Linked DNA regions of Homo sapiens: region 2 is linked to region 1. The links come from fine-mapping of genetic effects on gene expression. Tissue or cell type: whole blood. Region 1 holds a variant in brackets; the other region holds the start of a gene. All regions are shown on one strand. Distances are from middle to middle.

Region 1 (8,102 bases):
TCATCCTCACCCACGCAGGTGTTAACATGCTCCAGGATGTCTTCTTTAAGCCTGTCACTCTTCCTTCCATAGTGTCACCTCTCTTCAGTGTCCCAGAGCTGCCTCCCAGATAGCCTCTGGGCCTTTCATCTGGGTGGCCGCTGGCACCTTGAGTTCCACATGCTCAAAGCAAAACTCATCCACCCCATCCCACCCACCCGAACACTTGCTGCTACTCCTCATTCGCCCGTCTATCAACCTGAGCCAGAAGTCACAGTTCCTGCAAGCACTACTTATCGAGCACTCTGCAGTTGACTCAGCAAAAAGAGCCGTTTACTTGAGTTTATGTTTCACGGGGGAGACAGACGATGCATCCAGTAGACACAATGCAGGCCACACGAGCCACTGGGCAGGCAGGAGAGCTGGGAGGGCAGGGCTGAGAATGCAAGAAATCGGCTGGCTCAGAAGAGGCCTCTCCGAGAAGGTGAGAAGTGAGCAAAGCCTGGAAGGAGGGGAGGCAGTTGGCCAGGGTATCCGGGAGGAACATTCTAGGCAGAGATCTCCAGGGTGCATCAGAAGCCCCTGGAGGGCATGTAAGGTGGAGTTTCTAATTCAGTGGGTCTGAGGTGGGGGCAGAAAACCTGCATTTCCAACATCACAGATGCTGCTGCTGCAGCTGGCCTGGGGCCCCACCTGAGAACCACTGGCTGGTGCAAAGGCCCGAGGCAGGGCTTTGCCCGGATGCTCAAGGAAGACGCCATTGGCCCCTGGGGCTGGCAGGGAGTAAAAGATTCCCCTGTAATCCGGCGGGTGTGGCTTGGTGTCAGCTGTACCAGAGTGAGTTGTGGGGCACTTGGGTCCTTGCATTGCTGTCCCAGCCCATGGAGCTCTCCGTGGGGATCTTTTCATCCCGGGAACCTCAGCCACAACTTCCTCCTTGCCCTTTGCTCGCCTCTGCAGCCTCCTGGCCCAGCAGCCTTCCCTGCACGCAAATGGCAGCAGCATCTGGGCTCCCCAGGCCAAGCTGTGGGAAACTCTAAGCCTTTCATGATGATGGGCTTTCAAAGTCCAGGACGGTCTGATGAGTGAAGACAACAGAAGGAAACAAGACCTGGGTCTGGTCCGGACTTGCTCATGGCGAAGATTTCAGTTAGTGGCCAAGTCACTTAACCCGTCCGTGCCTTGGTGTCTACATCTGTAAAATGGGTTTAATAGTATCTGTCCCCTAAGACTTCAGAGGATGTTAGTGGAGCCTAGTGAGTGAAGTCCATTAAATTCAGAAGAAAGGCGTAACTAAATACAAAGCACTACTAGAATTAGCTCTCAGGGTCTTTAAGCCAGGTTGCATCTTGTTTTAAGAGGGTTACCATGGCGATGAGTTTGTTTGAAAAGCATATGTTTAAAAGGCTTGGCTATTATCTTGCAACAATAAGTAAATTTCATTTTGCTGGTTCCCATTGTAACAGAGGCGCAGCGCCTCACCAGCAGCCATGACAGCCAACACTGCTGCGACTGCCACCTTCTGCCATGGCAAAGAGCACGGTTACTCCTGCTGTACATACAGTGAGTGCTTACTGTACGTTGTAGAGGCCACTGTGGTGGCATCTTGTCATGCGGATAGAGGACTGTCCTGTGGGCAGGACCCACCAGAATAATGCTCCTGCCATACCCACATCTATGGTTATGCTGGGTCTGCACTGGGCCAGAGATGTTGGCGGGATGGGCGGGGAGGGGTGAGGCTGAGCATCCTGCAGGAACGACTCTGTACCAGGCACCATCAGATTCTTTACACGTCACATCTCATCAAATGCCCCCGGCAGCCTGGCACTGTCCCGGGCAGCAGGATGGGGGTGTGGGTGCATAAGAGGTAGGACGGTCCCTCCCTCCATGAGAACAAAATTCAGCCTAGAAACGCAGACAGCGTGGCAATGCTGGGGCGGTGGTGGGGGTCCTAAAACTCAGGCACAGGGGCCAGCCCAGAATCTGGGGTCCTGGGGCTGGGCAGGGGCTTGGGTCAGTCCCTGGGTGCAATCCCAGCCCCACCGCGCAGCAGCTGCATGACAGTGGACAAGTCACTCACCCTCCTTGCCCTGGTTTCCACAAACAGGAGCACACACAGCGCTGTCAGTGGGACGTGGGGCACGCCATGTTCAGAGGCTCCATGTGAGTCTCTGGCAGGCAGCAGCAACTGAATGAATGGGGCAATGGGGACTGTGGCCCTGGATGAGGACACAAAGCTCCTCAGGTGCTGCTCTAGCTCCATGGTCCTGATTGGACAGGAAAGACCCTGTCACTCCGCCGTTGCTTCTTCTCAGGGCTGGACCCACCACAGGCACCTCACACACCTCCTGGAGTGCAGGAAGCAGGACCCCTTGTCTGTGTGGGGCCACATGAGCAGAATCTTGCTCAGGTCTGAGAGCCCCACCTCTGCTAAGAGGGGCTTTGAGGGGGTCACATATCCCCATGTTCCTGCTCACGATTGGGCTGTGGTGTCCCTGCTGTGCCACAGGCCCAGTCGCAGCCAAGGCAGGACCAGGGGCTGGAGGGTCTCGGAAGCTGCCGCTCAGCCCCTGCCTCAGTTTCCTCACACTGTGAAGGTGGAGTCAGGTGAGCCTCCCGTTGCCTGGTTTTCCTGGGGAGGGTGGGGTCTTCCTGTCCAGCTTGGACGTGGAGTGGAGCACCCCTCTTTCCCACAGTCCCGCCAAACTGGACTCATTTTCCTTCAAAGCCTAAGTCTTGTGAAGACACTTGTGCCCTGGAGGGCCTGGCGGCCACGAGGTGGACACTCCATGGCAAGGCCTCGTCATCAAGGCACCTGCCGCCCAGCACAGCGCTGTGCACAGCAGGTGCTTACTAAATACAGGCTTAATGAATAAGTGAATGAATGGAGAAGGGCATGAGAGAGGGGAAGAAACTCATCTGTATTAGCTCAAAACAGCCCGAATTCTGGCCTCCAGTCGGCATGGGACCAAGGAGAGCTGCGCATGTGGTGATCTGAGCCTCAGCCAGGGTGGGCCCAAGGGTAGGGGTGAGGCG[A/G]GGTGCACCCATTTTCCTGGGAGCTGAGCTGGAGGCTGATCCCGGCTCAGGGCCTCCTGCTTCCTTCCCTGTGTGGGGAAACGAGAGGCATTTCCTGGAAATGCAGCCTGGGTGCAGCGGAGGACAGAGCCAGGTAGGGTGGGAGGAGGCTGTGGGCCAGGGCTCTGGGACAGGTGAGAAGACACTGGCGCTCTGCCCAGAGACCCTGTCCCCCAGCAGAGTGGCTACGAGTTTCCTTCCCATCAGAAGTCAGGCCCTGCAGGTCCATGGACCAAGACAAGCCACCTCCAACCAGAAAGAACTCTGGAGAGACGTGCCTGTGTCCACGCCCATGGTTGCTCAGGGACCAGTCAGGCAACCTCCTGCCTCACTTTCCCCCTACAAAACAGGGAGATCAGCATGGCCCGTTGTGTGCCCCCAGGAGAGGCACCTGTTATACAGAGCAGGGCGGCAAACAATGGCCCATGGGCCGAACCCAGTCGCCGCCTGGTGGTGCTTCCTTTTCAGCCACCCACCTTGTAGTGCCTGGCAAGGGCAGCCTAAGGGAACCCACACCCTCTCTGACACCTCTGTTGTGTGGATCTCACAGCTCTCCCTGCTGTCATAGCTTATCATTTATTTATTTTTATTATTTTTTTGCGACTGAGTCTCACTCTGTCGCCCACGCTGGAGTGTGGTGGCATAATCTCGGCTCACTGCAGCCTCCGCCTCCCGGGTTCAAGCGATCCTCCTGCCTCAGCCTACTGAGTAGCTGGGACTACAGGCGTGTGCCAGTACACCTGGCTAATTTTTGTATTTTTTGTAGAGGCAGGGTTTCACCATGTTGGCCAGGCTGGTCCCGCACTCCTGACCTCAGGTAATCTGCACGCCTCAGCTTCCCAAAGTGCTGAGATTACAGATGTGAGCCATCGCGCCCAGACAGAAGTTATCATTTATTTATTTTTGCTCATCTTCCTCTACTAGAATGGAAACTCCACTGAGAGCAAGGATCCCATTTATTCTTTATTTCCGTATCCCCGGTGTCTTTGAAAGTGCCTGGTACGTACTGGCACAACGTTTCTGAAATGAATGAGTAGATATGGCTCTACTGGTGTCCTGTGACCCGCGTAACCAAGTGCCAAGAGCTGGGTGGCTCGCAACAACAGAACCCGCTCTCACCGTCCTGGAGGCCAGGTGTCTGACATCGAGGTGTCAGCAGGGCCCTGCTCCCTCCAAAGGCTCCTGGGGAGGCTCCTTCCCGGCCTCCTCCAGCGTCTGGGGGTTGCTGGCAATCTTTGGCACTCCTTGGCACTCCTTGGCTTGTGGACGCTTCACTCCAATCTCCGTCTCCGTTTCTGCCCAGAACTCCCTTGTGAGTCCGTGTCTTTGCTTTCTCAGGAGAATTGCTCATTCCAGCCGCAGTTCTTCCAGGGGGCGGTCTGTGCGCGTGAACTGCCTGAGCGGGGAACCCAGCCAGATCATGAACTGCCCAGGCCCCAGCTCCCGGCTTGATTTGCTGCAGTTTTCCTAATTGGAAGAGAAACGTATGCTGATTATTTTTAAAGACATAAATGTTACAGAAATGTAACAAAAGCAAGTGAAATTCCCCCCAGCCCCATCTCTCCCTGCTCAATGGCGTGATCGCACACATTTGGGGCTGGTGCCTCAACTCAGGCCTCTCATCACCCATGGAGGCCTGGGATGGGCAGAGCGTGACGTCAGGCACCATGGGGGGACTCGCGGGGGCGAGCTTTACCTTTGCTCTTAAGGAGCTCCCAGTCTAAAGAGGGAGACAAAAAAAAAAAAAAAGCCCAAGGAACTGTCCTAGCCAGAGGGGCCTAAAGAGGCCATGACTAAATGGCCTGTGGCTTTCTGCAGGGGATCCTGGAACAGAAAAGGACTTAAGGTGAAAACTGAGGAGATCTGAGCCAACAGTGGACCTGAAGAATGACTGTCAGTCCATTCATCGGAACAAATGGGCCGGACTCATGCCCCATGTTAATAATGGAGGAACCTGGATGTGGGGTTTATGGGAACTCCCTGTACTATCTTCTCAATTTTTCTGTAAATCCAAAACTGTTGGAAAAATTAAAATCCATTAAAAAAAAAAAGACACAATATAAGGCACCAAGGCAAATGGTCTGCTGAGACAGAAGAAACCAAGCCTCGGAGCTCCCCACCGGCTTACGCTGAGGGACCCCCGGAGGGAGGCCAGCTGGCCCTTGCAGCCACACAGGGTGAAGGAAATGAGTTGGGTGTTTCGGGAGAGAGCAACCAGATGTCCCATCTGGCTGTGGCCCGCATCCCTCCCCGCCAGGGCCCCGCTCGGTAAGCGGTATCTGCAGCCTTGGGAATGCCCCAAGGGGAAGGGGACAAGAGGAAAGGGAGTGAGACCATGGGATGGACCCGCGGGCCTTCCTGCTCTAGTTCCCAGCCTCTGCCTGCCCCACGGGAGGCTCCCTAAGTTCCCCGAGAGTGCAGGAATGCACAATGAGCAAATGCTGGTTGCTAGGCCTGCGTGCGCACAGGCAGACTCTCCGTTGTGTCTTTCGGTGCCTGCAAGAGCCTTGCGGGTCTGCAGCTCATAAACCCTCTTCACTCACCATCTATTTTGCTATTTTTTAATTGCCTGAGGTCAAATCCAGAAAGCAGCTTCTGAGATTCCTGCGGCTTCCTGCCCGCCTGGTGTCCTACGCTACCATTTTCCTGTGCAAACACTTGAGGGGCGTTGGGAGCCGAGGGAATTGGAGCAGCAGGTCCTGTTCCTTCCCCTGGCTGTGTGTTTAGGAAGGTCTTTGGAAACACAACTGTTTGGAAAAGTCTTGAAATAGGAAATAGAGTCCCAGCTGAGTGTCTAGGTTACATGAGAGTCAAAAAATATAAAACCATTTCCTCCAAGGTTGCCAAGTTTGGAGGGCCCACCCCGCTCTGCACATCCTGCAAATGACTCAACTTGAATTTACCTCCGTGACTCTTGCGCGACTTCCACGCGTGAAGCCAGCACCCAAAGGAGCACTGGGTGCCCCTGGCGTCCTGGACACCAGCCTCCCCTCCATCACAACACTGGGACCCTATCCCAGGCTGGGCCTGGCCCACTGCTCAACAAGCATCACACTGTCACCTGGGGCATCTGCAGAACTTTTCATCAGACAAGGAGAAATGGCCTGTCCCTTGCATGGGGAGAATTCCTCTGCTATTTTAACCATTTTCTTTTCTTTTTTTTTTTTTTAAGACGGAGTTTCGCTTTTGTTGCCCAGGCTGGAGTGCAATGGCGTGATCTCAGCTCACCATAACCTCCGCCTCCCAGGTTCAAGCAATTCTCCTGCCTCAGCCTCCTGAGTAGCTGCGATTACAGGCATGCACCACCACGCCAGGCTAATTTTGTATTTTTAATAGAGATGGGGTTTCTTCATGTTGGTCAGGCTGGTCTTGAACTCCCGACCTCAGGTGATTCACCCGCCTCGGCCTCCCAAAGTGCTGGGATTACAGGCGTGAGCCACCGCACCCGGCCTTATTTTAACCATTTTCAAACATGCAGCTCAGTGGCAGGAATCCATTCATTGTTGTGCAGCCATCACCAACATCCACCCCCAGAACTTGTTCATTATCCCCTGCTGAAACTTTGCACCCACAAAACACTCTCTATTTCCTCCTCCTCCCAGCCCCTGGTAACCGCCACTGGACTTTTCTCTCTATGAATTTGCCTCTTCCGGGTGCCTCATATCAGTGGAGTCATGTCCCTTTGTGTCTGGTTTTTTCACTTAGCGTAGTGTTGTCGAGGAGTCATGTCCCTTTGTGTCTGGTTTTTTCACTTAATGTAGTGTTGTCGAGGAGTCTGTCCCTTTGTGTCTGGTTTTTTCACTTAGCGTAGTGTTGTCGAGGAGTCTGTCCCTTTGTGTCTGGTTTTTTCACTTAACGTGGTGTTGTCGAGGAGTCTGTCCCTTTGTGTCTGGTTTTTTCACTTAACGTGGTGTTGTCGAGGAGTCTGTCCCTTTGTGTCTGGTTTTTTCACTTAACGTGGTGTTTTCGAGGAGTTTGTCCCTTTGTGTCTGGTTTTTTCACTTAACGTGGTGTTGTCGAGGAGTCTGTCCCTTTGTGTCTGGTTTTTTCACTTAACGTGGTGTTTTCGAGGAGTTTGTCCCTTTGTGTCTGGTTTTTTCACTTAACGTAGTGTTCTTGAGGTTCACCGGTGTGGTAACAGGTATTCGAGTTTCATGCCTGCCCATGGCTGACTAGCATCTACTGTGTGACTGGGCCTCACTGCACTGATGCGTCCCTCTGCGGAGGGACAAGTGGGTCGCTTCCACCTTCTGGTGACTGTGAATAACACTGCTGTGAACATGGGTGTGCACTCTCTGTTGGAGTCTCTGCTTTCAGTTCTTTTGGATATATACCCGGGCGTGAAACTGCTGGGTCATAGGGTAATTCTGTGTTTAACTTTTTTTCTTTCTTTCGAGACAGAGTTTCTCTCTTGTTGCCCAAGCTGGAGTGCAGTGGCGTGATCTCGGCTCACTGCGACCTCCGCCTCCCGGGTTCAAGCAATTCTCCTGCCTCTGCCTCCCGAGTAGCTGGGATTACAGGCATTCGCCACACCTGGCTAATTTTTTGTATGTTTAGTAGAGATGGTATTTTGCCATGTTGGCCAGGCTGGTCTCGAACTCCTGACCTCAGGTGACCCACCCACCTCAGCCTCCCAAAGTGCTGGGATTACAGGCATGAGCCACGGCACCCAGCCTGGGCTTTTTCCTGTTGCTGTCATTGAGGAATTGTAGTTCTTTACATGTTCTGGAGAGGGACATCACATTCTATGTTTGATTTTTATCCATCTGTGCACACATATCCAGAAGCAGAAATTCAAGTGTAGGGGGGCTGTGGGGGGACTGAGAAAGGCTTATATAAAAGGCTTGGCAACAAAATCAAATCAGCCTTTGCAGAGGTCCCTGTTCCTTCCATTCCCAAGGGAACATTCCAGAAACCCCCACTGTGGGCTGGGCTTCTCAGTCTTTTCTCCATGTCCTGTTGCAAGCCCGAGAGCCCTGAGCCCATGGGCCTGTGTGGTGGTGGTCCACAGCCTCCAGGCCAGGGGAGGAAGGGTAGACCTTGCTGGG
Region 2 (8,102 bases), 130 kb before region 1:
ACTCATCCTTTCAGAGATGCTAAAAAAAAATGAATGTCCTGAAATCAGTGATTTATGGCGTAAACTCACTTTTCTGTTTTTTTGTTTTTTGAGACAGAGTCTCGCTCTTTTGCCAGGCTGGAGTACAGTGGCGCAAACTTGGCTCACTGCAACCTCCACCTCCTGGCTCACTGCAACCTCCACCTCCTGGGTTCAAGCGATTCTCCTGCCTCAGCCACCTCAGTAACTGGGACTACAGGTGTGTGCCACCATGCCCAGCTAATTTTTGTATTTTTAGTAGAGATGGGGTTTCACCATGTTGGCCAGGATGGTCTCGATCTCTTGACCTCATGATCTGTCCTCCTCGGCTTCCCAATGTGCTGGAATTATAGGCATGAGCCACCATGCCCAGCCTTTTTTTTTTTTTTGAGACGGAGTTTCACTCTTGTTGCCCAGGCTGGAGTGCAATGGCACAATCTTGGCTCACTGCAACCTCCGCCTCCCGGGTTTAAGCGATTCCTGTGCCTCAGCCTCCAGATTAGCTGGAACTACAGGTGCCAACCACCACACCTGGCTAATTTTTGTATTTTTAGTACAAACAGGGTTTTGCTGTGTTGGCCAGGCTGGTCTAGAACTCCTGGCCTCAAGTGATCTGCCCGCCTCAGCCTCCCAAAGTGCTGGGATTAGAGGTATGAGCTACTGCGCCTGGTCATGATTAGTTTTTTTTTGTTTGTTTGTTTTTGTTTTTGAGACGGAGTCTCGGTCTATTGCCCAGGCTGGAGTGCAGTGGCGCCATCTCTGCTCACCACAACCTCTGCCTCCCGGGTTCAAGCAATTCTCCTGCCTCAGCCTCCTGAGTAGCTGGGACTACAGGTGCGTGCCACCATGCCCGGCTAATTTTTGCATTTTTAGTAGAGACAGGGGTTTCACTATGTTCACCAGGCTGGTCTTGAACTCCCGACCTCGTGATCTGCCTGCCTTGGCCTCCCAAAGTGCTGGGATTACAGGCGTGAGCCACCGTGCTCAGCCCATGATTAGGTCTTAAGGGCAGAGCTCTCATGAATGGGATTGGTGCCCTTACAAAATACAGGTTGAGTATCCCTAATCTGAAAATCCAAAATCTAAAATGCTCCAAAATCTGAAACTTTCTGAATGTCAATGTGATGCTCAAAAGGAAATGCTCACTGGAGCATTTCGGACTTGAAATGTTTGGATTAGGGATGCTTAACTGGTAGACCCATCTCTATAAAAACAAAACAGCCAGCTCTGGTGGTGTGCCTGTACTCCCAGCTACTCAGGAGGATAAGGTGGAAGGACAGCTTGAGCTCGAGTTTGAGGCTGCAGTGGGTCATGATCATGCCACTGTATTCCAACCTGGACAACAAAGTGAGATGCCCCCATGGAAAAAACCCACAACGCCAACAGAAAGTAGATTAGTGGTTGTCTAGGGCTTGGGTGGGGGATGGGGCATGGAGTGAATGCTAATTGAGGCTGGGGTTTCTTTTTGTTCTAAAAATGATTGTGGTGATGGTTGCAGAACTCTGAATACACTAGAAGTCATTACATTGTACATTCAATGGGGACATTTTACAGTATGTTAATTATATCTCAATAAAACTGTTAAAAAGGAAATGTTAATGGAATTTGGATACATTTCCACTTATTTGGTATATGGCTTTATTTTCAGTTTTATTTTACAAACACTTACATGGTCTTACTATGTGCCAAGTACTGGGTTCCAAACGTTTTATAAATATGAATGTATTTCATCCTCATAACTCTGTGAAGTGGATACTACTGTTATCTCCATTTTACACAGGTACAGAGAGGTTAGGTAACTTACCTAAGGTCTTTCAGTTAAAAATGGCAGTCGGGATTTGAATCTTGCCAGTCTGGCTTCAGAGTCTGTGATCTTTATTTATTTTTCAAGAGATAGGGTCTTGCTGTGTTGCCCAAGCTGGAGTACAGTGTTAGTCACAGGCATGATCCCATTACTGGTGAGCATGGGAGTTTTGACTTGCTCCATTTCTGACCTGAGCCGCTTCACACCTCCTTAGGTAACATGGTGGTCCCTGGCTCTTGTGGGGTCACCATATTGATGCCAAACTGAGGACACCCAACGCTCGTTGCGTGCTACAGCCAAGAACTCCTGGGCTCAAGTGATTCTCCTGCTTCGGCTTCACTAGTAGCTAGGACAATAGGCCTGCACCACCAAGCCAAGCCAGAGTCTGTGATCTAACCATTCTATTATGCCACCTTTCCCAAAGATGTTTACAGTTTTTCTTAACTGTAACCAGTGTAGAAAATTAAAAATTTGTGGAGGATCTTAAATTTGAGGACAGAGTTAAGGAATATATCCCTACGTACATGGCTAAATGTAAATATGTAGCAATGCCTAATAGAGGCCAGGCACTGTTCTGGTACTCTGGGTAGGGGTGGATGGGGTGGATAGGGAATATAAGGACAAATGATATAGGGTCCACGAAGAACTCTCAACCTAATTCTGATGCAATGTGGTGTTGGTATTTGAGAGTTTCCAAAATGTTGTGGGTAGGAGAGCAAAACAATAATATTTGGGTTTTAGAAAGTAAGGCATAAAATAATTTGTTCATTAAATCAAAGGAAGTAAGAAGATCACTTGGGAAAGTTATAATCCAAAAATAGTTAAGTATTTGAGTTTCAGCAGGAGGAATGAAAACAGATTACTTTAAGGAAATATTTCATAATTAGAAATATCCAGGTTTAGATACTGAAAGTGAGGGCCAGAGATAGGAATGGGTTGAAGATGACGCCACAGTCTTCTTTTTTTTTTTTTTTTTTTTTTGAGACGGAGTCTCACTCTGTTGCCCAGGCTGGACTGCAGTGGCACGATCTCAGCTGACGGCAACCTCTGCCTCCCGGGTTCAGGCGATTCCCCCACCTCAGCCTTCAGAGTAGCTGAGATTACAGGCGCGCGCCACCAGGCCCGACTGATTTTTGTATTTTTAGTAGAGACGGGGTTTCACCATCTTGGCTAGGCTGGTCTTGAACTCCTGACCTCAGGTGATCCGCCCGCCTCGGCCTCCCAAAGTGTTAGGATTACAGGCGTGAGCCACCGCACCCGGCCTACAGTACTTCTAACGTAACATCGCAGAAACACTGGAGGAGAGAAGAGAATACACTTCCACTCGGAATTCGCACCCTGGTCGCCTTCATTCGCTGGGTTCACTCGCTGAACTGCCTCGCCCCCGCCCGGGAGGATGACATCTCGGCCTGGGCAGAGACTCGAAAGCCTCCTCCTGCCGCTCGGGATGCTAACAGCAGGGAGAGCTGTGTCTAGTTTTTTTTTTTTTTTTTTTTTTTTTGAGAGGGAATCTCGCTCTGTCCCCCAGGCTGGAGTGCAGCGGCGCGATCTCAGCTCACTGCAACCTCCGCCTCCCAGGTTCAAGCAATTCTCCTGCCTCAACCTCCCGTGTAGCTGGGACTACAGATGCCGGCCACCACGCAAGGCTAATTTTTTTGTATTTTTAGTAGAGACGGGGTTTCACCATATTGGTCAGGCTGGTCTCGAACTCCCGACCTCAGGTGATCCGCCCGCCTCAGCCTCCCAAAGTGCTGGGATTACAGGCGTGAGCCACCGCGCCCGGCTTGTGTCTAGTCTTGCCCGTAGCAGCGTCGCCGACAGCCACGCCGGGTTGTCAGAGCCTCACTAGTTTTTCTCCCGGCCGCCGCTCTTCCCGGATTCAGCCACCTTCCCTCTTCCGGGAACTTGCCCGCGTGTTCCGGCTCCAGGAAGTGCGTCATCAGTCGGCGCCAGCGGCCGCACGCCGCGGAGCAGGGGCTCGGAGGTCCCGGGATTACGGTGCTCGAGCACGCTGGTGGGAAAGGACCCGGGACTTGAACAGTGTTGTGCGGCGCCATGCAGGTCTCCAGCCTCAATGAGGTGAAGATTTACAGCCTCAGCTGCGGCAAGTCCCTTCCTGAGGTGAGTCACTTCCCGGCCCCCTCACTCTCGAGCTCTTGGGGGTCGTCCTCCTCGTGGGGCAGCCGCCCCTCTCCTCGGCCCTAGCCTCTGTTTTAGCTGGACGCTGGTCACCCCCCGACTCGGGGAGGCCCAGAGGCGGCTGACAATTTCCGGGGGAGGTGTCGGCATTGGGAGACAAGGACACTGCCGTCACCGCGCCAGAAACTGGACCAAGGGATAATCAGGGTCAGTGAGCTTTGCTGGAACTTTTGTAAAGTTCTCTGTTCCAGAGAACGCAACCATTTGGGCCTCTTTGGGTGTTCACAGTCCCTGCCGTACATCGAGGAGGAAAACGTGGCAGATTCGTTGACACATCTCTCCCCCATATGGCCATCAGCTGTTTGTGGAGTCCCTATCATTTGCCAGGTCTTAGGGATACAACAGTGAACAAGGGAGATACAGACTTCGCATCTGCAGAATTTATGGTGTAGAGGACAGTATTTTCGAGACTTGTTGAACTTAACCTGATTCCTAGTCTTAAAGTTGGAGAGGGCTTGGACAAGTCGGTAATTCTCTTCCAATCTTCTCGTGTTTAGTAATGCAGCTGAGATTTAATAATGCGTTTAATATGCAGCTGAGATCCAGCAAGGGGAAGGGTGACTTGTCCAGCATGACACACTTAGGCTCTGAAACTTGTCTTTTGTTTCTTATACGTGATGATCCAGCCTCTGTCCAAGCACTACCACTGAGCACTACCTTTTGTGGAAGCTCATTTCCATTTTGAGACTCTGCACTTGTTAGAAAGTGGTTTTCAAATATGTCACCTTATAGCATGCCACTGTTGGCCTGAGTCCTGCCCTTGGAAAACAGAATAAATATAGCTCTCCTTCCATGCGTCTGCTTCTACAAAAATTTGGAGCCAGTGCTTAGGTTTTTCCTTTCTTCCTAAAATTCTGGTTTGAATAATTCCCTGTCTTCCAGTTGTTCTTCACACCCCATGAGCTTTCTCATTTTGTTCATTCATTCTCCACATGTATTGAGAAGTTACTGTGTGCAAGCAACTCTGTTTTAAGTATTGGGATCTATAGTGGACATTTCAGATAAGGTTCCCTGTTGGGGAAAAGGGAAATAAACAAGTGAGCAAATAAGGCAATTTAAGGTAGTCAAAAAGTACTTTTCGTGGTGAATGATTAGAAGAGAGCTGTTTTGGATAAAATATTGAGAGAAAGTGTTTTGGATAAAACCTTCGGGGAAGGCCTCTCTACAAGAGGTGACATATGAGCAGAAACTTGGATGATGAAGAGGAGCCAGTCGTGTGAAGATGTGGGGAAGAGTTTTCAGTGCTGAGAACAGAAAGTGCAAAAGCCCCACATGGGAATGCACTGGACATGTAGGAGGACGGAAGAGGCACAGGTGTGATTGCACTATGCTGAGTGAGGGGGCGAGAGCAGGGTGGATGAGGCTGGAGAGGTAGGCCTGGTAGGAAAGGTAGGAAGTTCAAGTTTTATTCTTAGTGCTGCTGGAAGTCACTGTTGTGTGGGCTGCTGTGCGACAAATGTCTAGCTGGGGAGGGTTCAAGTCGGGATGAATTAGGTAGTCCAGGTGAGCGACTTCGGTGGCTTGGGCTTGCCTGGTAACAAAGAAGATGCTAAAACACAGTGAGATTCAGGACATACTTTGTAGATAGGGTAATGGAACTTGCTAATGGATTGGACTGTTGGTAGAGGGAAGTTGAGGTGACAAAAAGGAAGGAATCAGAGAACTCTTCAGTTTTGAGTCTGAACAAGTGGGTGCACGGTGGTGCTGCTAACTGACATGGAGAAGAATCAAGAAGGAACACATTGAAAGGTGGAGAGGAGGAACGTAGTGAGCAAAAAGAATCAAGATTTTTTTTTGAGGTCGCGTGCAATGGCCTGATGTTGGCTCACTGCAACCTCTCGGGTTCAAGCGATTCTCCTGCCTCAGCCTCCCCAGTAGCTGGGACTACAGGCACGTGCCACCACACCAGCTAATTTTTGTATTTTTAGTAGAGACGGAGTTTCACTATGTTGGCCGGTATGGTCTCGATCTGATCTTGTGATCCACCCACCTCGGCCTCCCAAAGTGCTGGGATTACAGGCATGAGCCACTGCACCCGGCCCAAGGTTTTTATTTTCAATAGTGAACATTTGAAGTTCTAATACATACCAAATGGAGATGTTGAGTAGTTAGCAGTTGCATGGATACTAGGATGGAGATTGCAGGTGAATTTACTGTCGTTATTTGGGACTAGGTGAGATCAAATTGTGAGAGAAAGAACAGAGAAGATAACTAGGCTGAGGACCTGAGGCAGTCTTAGCATTTGTCATCCAAGAAGAGGAGGGGAACCCAGCAAAGAAGAAAGAGTAGTGGGCACTGATGGAAGGGGAGACTGGGAAATGTGTAGTTTTGTAGAAGTAAGTGTTTCAAGGAGGAGGTGGTGGTCACCTGTGTCAGCTGCTACTGAGAGCTTCAGTAAGATGAAGGCAGAAAAATGACCATCGACTTTGGCATGATGCAGAGCGCCCTTGACCTTGGCAAGGAGCTCCAGTGGAGTGGTGGGGAGGGTAGCTTGAGCTGAGTGGATTTGGAAACCCCTGCTTGTCCTGTTTAATATTTTCTGGTTATTTCTTTGAGGTGTGGTGCCTAAACTACACGTGGAACCCCAGTTGTTGTCTGATCTGTGCAAATATTGCTTCTCTCCTTCTGGGCTTTACCTTTTTATTAATGTAGAGAAGCCTCTACGTTTACTCCCCTGGTGATCCTAGGCAGTCTCCTGGCTTTAAGCACATCTGCATATCGATAACTATCACATTGATGTTTCTAGCCCTTACCTCTACTCTGAACTGGACTTGTGTATCCAACTGTTTCTTGACATCCCCGCTTGGATGTCTGATAGGCATCTCAAACTTAACTTGTCCAAAGTAGAACACCAGCTTTCCCCCCACATTTCCCCCTCCTGCAACCTAGTGGTCTTCCCTCCCTCAGCCAGTGGCAACTCCATCCCGCAAGCTGTTGATGCCAAAAACACTGGAGGCTTTTTGTTGTTGTTTCTTTGCTCTCATACAATCCACTAGAAAATGCTGTTGCTTCTATCTTCAGTATAGATCCAGAATCCAGTCACCTCCATTACTGTCACTGATTCAAGACACTGTCACCCCTGACTATGCAATTGCAGTTATTGCAGTTGACTTCTAAGCAGTTTCTCAGTTTCCACCCTCTACCCCTTTATTCCACAGTCTGTTATCAGTAAGCTGCCAGGGTGATCCTCTACTCAGAACTGTCCAGTGGCTCCTGCTCTCTTGGGGGTGAAAAGCAGAGTCCTTTGAGTGACTTTTAAGGTCCTACTTGATGTTGTGCCTTCCTGCCCTCCTCTCTGAGCTCAGCGGTCACTGTTCTCCACCTTACACTGGCCTCACAAGTCTCACTGCTCGAGACCAGGCACACTCCTGCCGTAGGACCTTGGCACAGGTCCTGCCTGCCTGCTTTTTTCCCAGATGTTCTCCAGGCTTTGCCTCCTCATGCCTTTCAGGTCGTTGCTCAAGAGGACCTTAACCTTATTCAAAATTATAATTCTCCACCAACACTTCGTCTCCTTTTCTTGCTTTATTTTTTCCATGGCATACATAACCATCTGACATTCTAATTGTTTTACTTCCTTATTTGTTGGTGTTCCCTCACTTGAAAGAAAGCTTCATGAAAGGAGGGGTTTTTAGATTTTTAAATTTTTTTTTTTTTTGAAACAGGTTTACTCTGTTGCCCAGGCTGGAGTGCAGTGGCACAATCATGGCTCACCTCAGCCTTGACTTCTCTGGGCTCAATGATTCTTGCACCTCAGCCTACTGAGTAGCTGGGACTACAGGTGTGTACCAACATGCCCAGCTGCTTTTTTTTTTTTGTAGAGACAGTGATCCCACTTTATTGCCAGGCTGGTCTCGAACTCCTGGGCTCAAGTGATCCCCTTGCCTCAGTGCTGGGATTATAGATATGAACCACTGCACTTGGCCAAGAGGGCTTTTTTTTCCCTCCTGTTTTATTTACTACTGCTATACCTAATTACTGGCATTTAGTAGTACTAAATAAATATTTGTTTAATGTATTGATGAATAAAGTTAATTTTCATTTTCAGCTCCATCACACTTTTGACTTGGGGCTACGATTT

Evidence for each region. PIP is the estimated chance that this variant, and not a neighbour inherited with it, causes the effect.
Region 2: NOL10 starts here. The variant in region 1 is fine-mapped to the expression of NOL10 in whole blood (TOPMed, PIP 0.97).

Annotation. Positions count from the first base shown.
Region 1 is chr2:10,553,075-10,561,176 of GRCh38, reverse strand. No RefSeq gene overlaps it. Among named protein-coding and RNA genes, the nearest start is that of ODC1-DT, 110 kb to the right of the region's middle. The variant A/G (reference allele first, on the strand shown) is at 3,016.
Region 2 is chr2:10,685,637-10,693,738 of GRCh38, reverse strand. It overlaps NOL10 (nucleolar protein 10), which reads left to right and starts at 3,764. Exons shown (of 21, transcript NM_024894.4): 1 at 3,764-3,943. The coding sequence starts at 3,878. It also overlaps the pseudogene RN7SL832P. RefSeq lists enhancers at 3,918-4,197, 4,258-4,317.